Regions from separate parts of the Homo sapiens genome. Here all the other regions are linked to region 1. The links come from fine-mapping of genetic effects on gene expression. A gene starts in region 1. Each other region holds a variant in brackets. All regions are shown on one strand. Distances are from middle to middle.

The links. PIP is the estimated chance that this variant, and not a neighbour inherited with it, causes the effect.
Region 2: its variant is the best candidate, but not a certain one, in a credible set for the expression of MAP2K4 in whole blood (INTERVAL, PIP 0.67).
Region 3: its variant is the best candidate, but not a certain one, in a credible set for the expression of MAP2K4 in whole blood (INTERVAL, PIP 0.63).

What each region holds. Positions count from the first base shown.
Region 1 is chr17:12,018,502-12,022,501 of GRCh38, forward strand. MAP2K4 (mitogen-activated protein kinase kinase 4) reads left to right here and starts at 2,376. Exons shown (of 11, transcript NM_003010.4): 1 at 2,376-2,500. The coding sequence starts at 2,386. It also overlaps a transcript of ZNF18 not described here. RefSeq lists an enhancer at 2,176-2,676 and a silencer at 2,213-3,092.
Region 2 is chr17:11,935,653-11,939,652 of GRCh38, forward strand. It overlaps DNAH9 (dynein axonemal heavy chain 9), which reads left to right. Exons shown (of 69, transcript NM_001372.4): 66 at 1,700-1,870. Among named protein-coding and RNA genes, the nearest start is that of ZNF18, 60 kb to the right of the region's middle. The variant G/A (reference allele first, on the strand shown) is at 2,458.
Region 3 is chr17:12,068,012-12,072,367 of GRCh38, forward strand. All of the region lies in intron 2 of MAP2K4 (mitogen-activated protein kinase kinase 4), which reads left to right. Among named protein-coding and RNA genes, the nearest start is that of MIR744, 12 kb to the right of the region's middle. The variant T/C (reference allele first, on the strand shown) is at 1,919.

The DNA.
Region 1 (4,000 bases):
GCCCACTCGTATGACCTCATTTTACTTTAAAGACCCTATTTCCAAATATAGTCCCATTCTGAGATGCTGGGGGTTAGGACTCCAACATGTAAATTTGGTGAGGGAGCAGAATACAATTTAGTCCATAAGAAATCATAAAACACAAATATGTAAGAGAAATGTGAGCATAAGAAAAAGTTAAAAAGCTCATACATAGCTTCCTCAGTTGGAACAAATCAAAGTGCTTTCTTGTTTTTGCCATATGCACATCTAATTATTGGCTCTTACTAGTTTACAATACCAACAGCAATGCAAGTATATGTCAGTTTTATCACAAACTCAGAATTAGGTATTCTTAAAAATAAGATTAGTTATATTTTTATTGTATTTCTCTTTTAATTCAGTTTCCCAATTTCCCTTAATGAATTTGCTAGGTTGAAGGTTTTCCTATATATATATAAATATAACTATATATATACATATTTTTTTTAATAGATGGAGTCTTGCTCTGTCACCCAGGCTGGAGTGCAGTGGCACAATCTCGGCTCACTGCAACCTCTGCCTCCCAGGTTCAAGCGATTCTCCTGCCTCAGCCTCCCTAGTAGCTGGGATTATAGGTACCTGCCACCACACCGGCTAATTTTTGTTTTTTTCTGTATTTTTAGTAGAGACAGGGTTTCACCACGTTGGCCAGGCTGGTCACTAACTCCTGACCTCACGTAATCCACCCGCCTTGGCCTCCCAAAGTGCTGGGATTACAGGTGTGAGCCAACATCCCCAGCCTTCTTTAATATATGTTATTTATAATATTGGATGTGTGTGTGTGTGTGTGTGTGTGTGTGTGTGTGTGTGTGTGTTTAAATTAATTTTCTAGTAGTTGCCTAATCTGTAGTGCTGCTTCTAGGATTTCTATTAAAAGAATATATATTAAATTCTTATTAAAGGCCAGTTATGATGGCTCATAATTAAGATGCCCTAGGAGCAACAAGAGCTGGGTGGGCTACTGATTTCCAGATGGGAATCTGGCCATGTTTATAAGACCTGGACTTGAAGATATTGGGCAGCCAACGAGGCCCATGGAGGAGAATTCTGGCGGGCTCTCCACTGAAGTACACCTACCTGCTCTCACCTTCAATTTGCCTTTAATGCCTCTCCACTTGATGTTTACGGCTAGCCACTTTTAGGATCTGAGCCATCAAGATGATGGATGAAATTGGGTTTGGAACAAGAAGGCAGGGCTATTTTGACCCAGGACACATTTCCAACATGCTGTGAAGAACTCTCAGCATCAAATAACATCTGGGTGGAAGAAGTTTTGGGAAAGAAGTCTAGCTGTAGATCACACAATGCTTCTAAATGGGAGAAAATGTCCAGCTCCATGGCTTAGATTCTTTGGGAAGTAGGATAACTGGCTATTCCATTTTAGGCAAGGCTGCCTGGCCAGAAACCCATGTCTTACCATTTCGAGTACATTATGGTTGGCTTACAAATCGTAGCCTCATAGAGAACTTTTTCTTCTTTTAGCTACTGTCTTCCTAAAATAAAAGTCTCTGTGCAAAGCAATGGAAGAAACCTCATATTGTTTTTTGGGGTTGTCATTTTATGTAACTTACAATAATGACTACGGCTCGTCTTATACAAGATGTAAAGGATTTGGGAGAGGGAATCCAGTGTGCATTTAGGGGAAGATGGTGATGTAGATAGCATATTTCAGGAGGCTGGGAAGTGTCGAGTGCTTAAATATATGCTTCTCAAATTTAATGGGCATACAAATTACCTGGTGGTATTATTAAAATGTAACCTCTAATTCAGTAGTTTTGGGATGGGTCCATGGACAGCACTTTGGTTAGTTCCCCTTGGGACTCCCCTTTCCCCTCAGAGAAGTGTAGAGGGTTGGGGTATTGGGCTTAAGAGGAGTTCCAGACTGTAACCATAGCTCTAGGTAACTCCCTTCTGGAAGTGATGTGTTAGCGACTGGAGGAGAAAGGGATCCCTGGGATCCTTTTCAGCTTTACTATTCTGATTTGGGGTTCTGAGATTCCAACAAAGTGGACTTTTGGGAGTCACAGACCTCCATGGGAATGATGAAAGCTGCGTACCTTCTTTCCGCACAAATGCAGGCCCACCTTTAATTCTGCAAACCACTTTAGGCCCCGCGGGCCCGCAGCCCTGGTCCAAGACAGCTGTCTGCTTCACAGGTCGCGCACCCAGAGCCGGGCGGTTCTGCAGCTCAGCATCTGGCCCGGGCTGCGCGTCGGGCTCTGGCGGGGGCGTGTCAGGAGGCGTGTCCGGGGCGTGTCGGAGGCGGGGCCAAGGCGGGGGTAAGCCTCGCCCCTCGGCCGTGCGAGAGGCCGAGCTTGCTGCATTGCAGCCGCCGCGGCGCCGCTCGGCTCTTCACTCCCAACAATGGCGGCTCCGAGCCCGAGCGGCGGCGGCGGCTCCGGGGGCGGCAGCGGCAGCGGCACCCCCGGCCCCGTAGGGTCCCCGGCGCCAGGCCACCCGGCCGTCAGCAGCATGCAGGGTAAGGAACGCGGCCGCGCCGAGATCCCAGCCCCCTAGCGCGGCAACCCGCGTCGTCGCGGCCTGCCCCAGCGGACGCCCCCGGACCCGGCTGAGGAAGCCACGGCAGCCGCCGGCTTCTCCCTCTCTCCCTCCCCGGCTTCCCGCCCCGCTCCCGGCCGCCTCCGGCCCGGCTTGGATCCGGGCTCCGGCCCGCATAGGCCCCGGCCGCGGCCTCTGCCTGCGCTTGGCCCCTGGGCCCTACCGGGCTCTCAGCAGGCCCGCAGGGCCCACCTGGTCCGGGACCGCCCCCGCGGCCGTCCCCATCGCCCCCGCCGCTTACCTGGCGCCCGCCCGGCCCCCGTTTCCGGGAACGCGCCGGCTCGGGGCTGCGGCGGAGCGGGAGGGGCGTCGGGCCTGCCCCCTGGTCCCTGACGCCGCTCAGGTAGGCGGCGAAGACAGCGGCCCCGGCCGGCGCCCCTCGGCCCCGCCGCCGCAGTGGGCCCCGCTCAGGGCCATCTTGGCTGTCGCCGGGCACAGCTGGAGCCGGACCACCGAGCTGACCTCGGGCTACGGGGGCCTCTTGGAACCTGCGTTTTCAAACTTTTGCAGGGTTTCTGTGCGCTGGAAGGGATGGGGGTGGGGGGCGGGTTGCCCAGGCCTGTGCCACCTGTAAGGTAGGTAGGCTGCATTGGCCTGGGAGAGGCATTTTGTTCCAGGCCAGGGATTTCTGTGTTAGCATTGCGTGCAGGAAGAAAAAAAAAAAAAAAAAAAAAGAAGACTTAATTTGGTTTAAATGGAGAGATACAGGAAATAGACAGGGGTCAAAGTGATACTGTAGTGTCTGGACATTTGAGGCAGCTCTGCTAATTAATGACTTTCCCCACTGGGAATGCTTATTAGCTGTGTATGGCTTTTGACAGGGGGTGTTGTGAAAATACCAGGCCAGGCCCGAGCCTGTTAGGGACCATTTCCTTAAATTTACTGGGGAATTTTGAGTAGTAATGCTATTTTTAAAACAGGGAATCTCAGAACTCTCTTGACAACTTTAGCAAACTGCTTGTGTTGAATTATTAACAGAATAAGGGTTGGGGTACCCTTGGTAGTCAGTGTGACCATGGTTACTTTTTGATTCCATTCCTCTTAAAGGGCTTCTAGCATTTAGTTAGGTTCAACAGACATTTATTGAATAGTTCATGTTTATAGAGCATGCCATAATTCAGAAAGAAGAGACAGGATTTTATTTATCTTTACATCCCTGTCACCCTCCCCATGAAATAATTTTAATATACATAAAAACCAGTGATAGATATATAGACAGGATGATGTCAGAGCTTAGAGGACACTTTCTGTGCAGGCCCTCAGATAATTCATTCAAATTGAATTAGTTATTGGATGCCCACTGTGTTGCACAGCACATTATACTGATGAAGTATAAGATTGACTTCCTGACTGTACAGCTTTACAATTTAGGTGGTGGTGGTTGGGGCGAAATGAAATGGCAAAATGACAATTTAGGATT
Region 2 (4,000 bases), 83 kb before region 1:
CGTGAGCCACCGCGCCCGGCCCGAAAGATATTTTTTAGCAGTTTTTATTGGTAGGCTTTTGAACATGCCTAGAAAAACTCTTGAATATAAAACATAAGGGAAATATTGATCACAGGAATATTAACTGCAAGCTTTAAAAAAATTTCTTTAATTCATTAAACTTAAGGGTAAATCGTAAAAGTCATTTGATCCAGAAAAATTGGACCTATAAGAGGAGATTTAAAACAATAAAGCTCTTTAAGGAAAATAAGAGGAAATGTTTTTAACTACTTCACCAAAGGCAAAAAGGCTTTTCCCGGGAAAATTGTGCAACAGCGTCCCCTAGTGTCCATGGGATAATTCGACAGGAGGCTGGAGCAAGTAACAGGCAAAGGAAGTCTGTTTTTCTTATTCAGCAAGGGTGAAATCGATTTGCACATTTCCAAATGACTGAGGTACACTCTCTTTCTTATACTTCTCTTTAATGTGTTAGTTAATAGATGGTTCTAGGGCATCTACATAGAGTCCAGGCCTGCACAGAACGCTGGAGGAAATACAAAAATGAACATACAGATCGGCCCTTGAGGAATGGGCAATCTATTAGGCTAGGTGTTAATAACACCAAGGAATCGTCAAAATCATATCAGGAACGGAACTTGAGGGATATTTTCCCACCATCGTATAAAGAGCCATGAAGAGGCGCTCAAAACATTCAGAGCCAGGCGCGGTGGCTCCCGCCTGTAATCCCAGAACTTTGGAAAGTCAAGGCTGGAGGATCACTTGAGCTGATGAGTTAGAGACCAGCCCAGGCAACATAGTGAGACCTCATCTCTACAAAAAATAGAAATAAAAAATCGGCTTGAGCATGGTGGCATGTACCTGTATTTCCAGCTACTTGGGAGACTGAGGTGGAAAGCACTTGAGCCTGGGAGGTGGAGGCTTTAGTGAGCTGTGTACTCTACTGTACACTACTGTACTCTAGTTTTTTCAGCAGAGTGAGAGCCTGTCTCACACACACACAATAAAATAAAATAAAATAAAACTGAGCCTTAGCCGCTGGTTAGGATTTTTAGGCATTAGGCATGGCAGACTCTAGCCACTAGCACTGGCCACAGAAAGGAGCTGCTAGGGTGACACATAGTTTCAAAATTTTTTTTATTTGAATACCTTTCACCAGGGGCGCAAACTCTCCAGTTCGCAGCCAATCTCACCTCCTTCGTCCTAAGCCCAATTCACTTGTTTATTTTGCATGTGCCATCCCATGTACATGTTCAGGTTTGTCATATCTGATTTAGATGGAGGGGAGAGAAAAGAAGGAAAGGTCTGGAATCCTAGAAGAGCTTACGTAAAATCACTAGGGAGGGATTCGTATTTTTGAAAGACTATGAGAAGTCCTCCTCTGGTCTGCAGGAAAAAGAGTCATCAGGGAGGAGTGGGAGGCATTGGGTGTGGAGATAGATAAAGTCATCTAAGCCTCCCAGAAAAAAGAGAATGATAGAATGAATGTGGAAGTTTTGGGAAACGGGTCCAGCCGACAAAAATGGATGATGTCAAGGTGCACTAATAGGTGGAGAGGGTGATGAAGTCAACCAGGGATGGTGAGCAGTGTCCCCTGGAGGAGGGATACTAGCCCATGGACTCCCTGCAGAGGACAAGCCGGTGTGGGAGATGGGAGGTACGTCCTGGTTTCTTTTTAAGTGAGCTTGCCCTTGATTTTCAGTACATCGATGCTGAGCTGCCCCCAGAATCCCCCTACCTCTATGGCCTCCACCCGAACGCAGAGATTGGCTTCCTGACCCAAACCTCAGAAAAGCTCTTCCGCACTGTGCTGGAGCTGCAGCCTCGGGACAGCCAGGCCAGAGACGGAGCGGGCGCCACAAGAGAAGAAAAGGTGTGTGTGGTGGGGACTGCCTGAGGTCGTTCTGGGGGACCCCGAGGATCATAGATGCACACCTTTCTCCTGCTGGCCATTTTGGCAGTACACAGCATAGACAACACACAAAGCACCAACCACCTGCAGCCTGGAGATGCTTGCCTGTCACCGCCAAGAGCCTCTCCCCTCCCGTCATCACCATGCTGGCCATCAGTTAAATCATAGGAAGTCCCTGCCATTGGGTTCAGCAGTTTTCTTTGCCAGTCCACCCAAAGTCCATTTTTATTCAGCTTCTCTGCCAAAGTGAAGAAAGGGCAGGGCTGAACAGTGGTGGCTTGGGAACCTTGAATGTGACTTCTTGATCCCCTGGCAAACCAAGCAAGGATGGGTAAGGGGTTGCCCCTGAGCACCCCCACCTCAGTTCACCAACCAGATGCCAGTGGGGAAGAACACAGTCCTTCATAATGCAAACGCCTTCCCTTCGTGTGAATGGCTTCTAGTCCGAGAGTCTCTAAATACACAGTTACCTGCCACTAAGCACAGGACTTCCTGAAATTTTAGGAAGGTGGAAGGGAATTATGGAGTAGAAAGGCAGACCAGGGTGA[G/A]GTGTGGGTTTCAGGACAACCCAAGGCAACATGGGGGCTCTGATCCTGGTGTGGGGGTAGCTGAAGATAAAGAAAGAATGGGCCTCACACCTGTAATCCCAGCACTTTGGGAGGCCAAGGCGGGCAGATCATGAGGTCATGAGTTCGAGACCAGCCTGGCCAACATGGTGAAACCCCATCTCTACTAAAAAATACAAAAATTAGCCGGGTGTGGTGGTGGGCGCCTGTAATCCCAGCTACTCGGGAGACTGAGGCAGGAGAATTGCTTGAACCTGGGAGGTGGAGGTTGCAGTGAGCCAAGACCGTGCCACTGCACTCCAGCCTGGTGACAGAGCAAGACTGTCTCCAAAAAAAAAAAAACAAAAAAAGAATGGGCCACCAAAGGGAAATTTCTCCATGAATTTTTTTCTGAGACAAGCTAACCAACTTCCTAAAGATGTATTTGTACCAACTGACATCCACCCCATGGTACTGCCTGGATTTTTTTTTTAATTTAATTTTTCTAAGAGTAAGATTTCACTCCATCACCCAGGCTGGAGAGTTCAGTGGCATAATCACAGCTCACTACAGCCTGCAACTCCTAACCTCAAGCAATCCTTCCACCTCAGCCTCCTGAGTAGCTAGGACTGCAGGTGTGTACCACCACGCCCTGCTAATTTTTTAACTTTTTGTAGAGACAGGGTCGCACTATGTTGCCTAGGCTAGTCTTGAACTCCTGGGCTGAAGCAATCCTCTCATTTTGACCTCCCAAAGTGCTAGGATTATAGGTGTGAGCCACTGCACCCGGTCCTAGCTGGGTTCTTTAATTTAGAGATGCCATTAGGTTTACAAGTAAACATCCTTGGGAAGATTATCAAACTTTTAGCCTCTAGAGACTGATTTTAGGAAAGCAAACTGATACTAAAAGAGTTGGACTTTTATATAAAGGTATGGAGTCATGTCATCAAAATAGTATTTCTCAAATTTTAATATGCCTAAGAATGTGCCAGAGAGATTGAAATTCTGACTCCGAGGTCTGGGGTTAGGTTGCATTGGCAACCTAGTGATTTTGATGAGGTGAGCATACTTCGAGAAAGCTGCTCCATATCACTCTACTCAGTCTATTCCACTATTTGATGTATAATTTGAAAATAAAGAGAAGAACCCACCCAGAATGAATAATGTTCCTAGATCTAAAACTGGAAAAGGCTGAGACTGTATAAGTAATAGACTTAGAATTCTTCAGTCAAGGTTCAAAGAAGGTTCTAATGCTTATCATTTCCTTATCCCCTCCCCCAGCTAACCCAAGAAATGGGGTGTGTATGTGCTTGTGTATTTCAGAAATGATATGAACTGTGATCACTTGCCATGCACAATGCTGTGTGGGACACGTGTGCAGGTTACTGGGTGCACATCTGATTGTGCAGTATCCCAGTATTTGGCCATGGTGGTGTTTCTCACATAGCTCACATGTTCCTATGAGCTATCTTCCTTCCTGTCCACACCGCAGGTCAGCTCAAGATGAGGGGCAAAGAGTCAAAGCCCAGAGAGTATTTTGTTGTTA
Region 3 (4,356 bases), 50 kb after region 1:
TGAGTTTTACTAGATTTGGGGAAGGGATTGATGAGTGTTCCAAGTGGAAGGAATCGCATGTATTTGAAATTATCAAGGTGGGAAATATTCAACTTGTCATGGAATGGAAGGAATGGCAGTTCACATGGAGGGTGACTGAATGAGAAAGGAAAAACAAACAAATTTAGATTAAGGGTGTAGAGACAGTTAGGTATGGAGAGATGGGCCACATAATGTAGGGCCTTGTAGATAAAGAGCTGGATGACATCCAAAGTGCAGTGGGGAGTTATGGAAAAGTTGTAAGTAGGTCAGTGATTTACAATTTAAACTGATTATTTACAGTCTAAAGTAATTATTCTGGCTGCCGTGTGGACTATGTACTGAAAGGAGGTAAGAATATAGTTAGGGAGACCTGATAAAACTATGGTAATGTAGGTAAAGCGTAATAGTCACCTATCATGACTTCAATAGTATTAAATTGATGACAGTACATGTAGAGAGACTGTAAAGACATTTTGGAAGTAATTAATAAATATTGGTGATAATTTGAATGTAGATGATGACAAGGAGGAAGGTGTTCATAGTGACTTGTAGAATTCTGGCTTGAATTAATGGGTTTAGTTGCGATTACTGTGATGGAGACTACTGGGTATGGAGCATCTGTAAATAGGGGTCATAGGGCAAGATCGAGTTTTAGATAATATTTAAGTTTGAGGGACCTGTGACATTTTATTAGGGATATCAAAACATACATATATATATTATATATATATATAGCGTGTGTGTATATGTATTTATGTATACATGTGTTTCTGTGCTTATGTGCATGTATCACATACTCTGGTGTTGAAAATATGAGTCTGGTGCCAGAAGTGAAGTTGTAGATTGGAGATAAAAAGTTGAAAATTGCTGCCATATAGATGAAAGGGTTGCCTAGGAAGAGAGTGAGAATGTATTTTGATGAGAAAATTGTGTCCAGGGCTGAGCCCCAAGAAAATCTAACATTTAGAGGTTGGATAGAAGAGGAGGGACAGGCAAAAATTAAAAGATGCTTGATAATTAGGAAGCAAACTGGTAGTGCATGATGTTATAGAAATCTAGCATTGTTTCAAAGTGCAGTTGGGAAGGAATTGTGGTTGGCTATGTCTAATGTTCTGAGAATGCTAGTAAAGCTACCTTGTTGGCAAAAACTCCTGAGATACACTTTAAACTACTCTTAATTTCTTACTTACTTGGGAAGAGGTTTTAGCTGCCACTGGAAATTGGGGCCTAAACAGGGAAAGGATCTCATGAAAACATGTAACCTATAGATTTAGGGCAGTTTTCCTTACCTTTTCTTGAAGAAGCATAGCCCAGAAAAACTGTTCTAAGGGTAAACTTAGAGTACAACTGACACAGGATCAGCTCTTAGGAAACAGTCAATAGCAACATGATGCAAACATGAATGTTTGTCTTGTCCTCTTTAATGTTACTCTTTTCTGTGGTGATAAAACATTTCTTTGTATGTCATAAATCAGTACTACTTCAGAATACTGCAGACTTATCTAATTTGTCTAATACATTCTGTTCACTAAATATGAGTATCAGAATTTGAAATTTTCTATTTAGAATGTTTGAGCCATTCTTCTGGACATTTCATTTTTCAGTTTTTCCTTTTGCCTCATCTTAGATCACAGCAAAGATACTCATTTGTTGGTAGTGCCAGGAAGCAGGCAGTTTCCATGGTAACTGACAGACCGAGTTTACTGTGGAAATTTCCGGAATTAACAGAGCTGCATTGCAGAAGGATGCATAAAGCAGTATTCATCTAGAGATCGTAACAGTACGGACACAGAAGAACAGTTGCAGTGATGTGCAGGGTATGTCTTACCTTTATTTTCCTGTCTAAGGAAGATTAGTCATATATATATATATATATATATATATATATATATATATA[T/C]ATATATATATATATATATATATGCATGCTGAGGAGACAGTAAAACAGCTTGGGGCGTTTTAGTATATGCTGGCTTGATACAGTCAAAGTTGCTTAGGAAAAAGAAGGAAGAAATGATTTGGGAAAGAAGGTATATTTGATAGCATTGGGAAGAAATCAAGATCAGATGATCGAGGTAGAAGAATGTGATAGTGAAATAAGAGGAGAAAACATACTTCAAACTAATTAAATAATAAAAGGTTCTTACGGATAGTGGTTCTAGGCACAAGAAGATATTTATTTATTTATTGAAGGAAAATAGTAGACATTGTCAAGTTTGAGAAATCAAGTTCTCATGTGCAGGAAAAAGAAATCTGTTAAGATAATTAGCTATTACTTGCTGAAAGATAGGTAGATATGAGAGATGTCCAGGATATTAAACAAGGAGGTTTGCTGCCATCTTAGCGTACTTACCTAAGTGATGAGAGAATCCTAGAAGGGTTTCTGCCCCTAATTCCACTCTCTGTTGATTGGTGGGCCATTTTCAAGAAAAATTCTGAAATGTATCTTGAGATTAAATTCTGGAAACAGAACTATAGGATTTGGGCAGATAATTGAAGGTGCTTATCATATAGAGCATAATTATAAATGTAAAAGAGAAAAAGGATATAGAAAATATGATTTAGATTATTTGCATGATAGATGCAATTTAGGTTGCTAGATACCATTTGGTATCATTTATATCATGTAGTCAGCAAACTACAGCTCATGAGCTGAATCCATCCTGTTTGCTTGTTTTTGTAAGTAAAGTTTTATTGGAACATAGCCACACCCATCTGGCTGCATAGTTGCAGGAGACTAGTGGCTTGCAAAGCCTAAAATATTTGCTATCTGGTTCTTTACAGAAAAAGGTTGTGACTCATGATTTAGATGGTGTACTGGATTTTTCAAGGCTTCTGTGAGATTACCACAAACTTGGTGGCTTAAAACAACAGAAATTTATTCTCTCACAGTTCTAGAGGCCAGAAATCTGAAGGTGTTGGCAGGGCCATGCTTCTCCCGAAGGTTCTGGGGGAGGATCCCCCCTTTCTTTCAGCTTCTGGTACTGCTGCTCTTCCTTGGCTTGTGGCAGCATAACCGTAATCTCTATGGTCTTCTTCCCTGTGTCTGTCTTGTGCATCTCTATCTTCTCCTTTTCTTTGTTTGGTCTCCTATAAGGATAGTTATTTTATTTAGTGCCCACCTAATCCAGAATCTCTTTTTTGAGATCTTTAATTTTATCCGTAAAGATAGGTTACTTTCTGAGATTCTGGATGGACCTATCTTTTTTTTGTGTGGTGGGTGGTGTATAGTTCACCCTACTACAGATGGTATTGAAGAACTGGGTTTTGGCTTCTTAAATCACATTGTATATTAAGGATAGCCAGTTCTTAGTGTTTCCTTTGACCTGCTGGAGAAGATATTAAACTCACATTTCAAAGGCAAGGTGATAGAGGCATAGTTGAATCATAGAAGATAGCCTTTGTGACACAAACATAAGCAGTAGAGTAAAGGGAGTACTAGAAAATTCATAGGAGAAAGAGTACTAAAATATTCACTGGAGACGGATGAAGACCAGTGCCTGATGCTTCATATCGTTCTCTTCTTGTCTCTTCATATTTTTCTCACCCTAACTCCCACCTCCAAAAAAACAACAAAATGAATTTGAAATTTTAATGAAAAATGGTTGGCACAAAAACAAAAATCACAGTTTTGAGGAATGGCTCATCGCTAAATTACGGCACTGGGAAATATATATATATGATTCAAAAGAAGTAGACTTAATAAGCAAGTAGAGGAGTGGCAGTGTAGAAGGTACACACCAATGTATAGACCAGTGAACCTGAGATTTGGCTTTTGTTGAGAGCCTTTTTGTCATTGTGGGAGTATACAAACTATTGGCCTGGGCAGGAGAGAAGGTCTGTGACATTTTCCTCTTCTCATATGGGCATATTTGTAAACCATAATAACAGTGGTAGGTATCTATTTGCATTCCCTGGAAGTCTCATTTACTGTATTTGGGTATATTCTGAAATGTTTAAAAAGTGATGAATTCACATGGTGAAGAATCAAATAGTAGGCAAGGGATTCCAATGTAGACGCTGGAGCTGCAGAGAAAAGCCACCTTATATTGCCTATATTCTCACCTGCGCACTTTGAAATGAAGCTTCTGATACAGACTTCATGGAGATGATCATAGAAGAATTAAATAGAAATGGTTAATCCAAATTAGGGTTCACTAAGAGTAAGTAAGCAGTTCCAAACTAGCCTAATATACTTTTTTGAAAGTGTTACTAGGACTGTAGATCAGGAGTTTGGAACAGACTAGGTGTATCTTGATTTCAACATTTATGGGCACAGAGGAGGAACATGAAGCCCAATACAGTATTTTCAGGAAGTTTCTTAGAAGGACAAGAGTG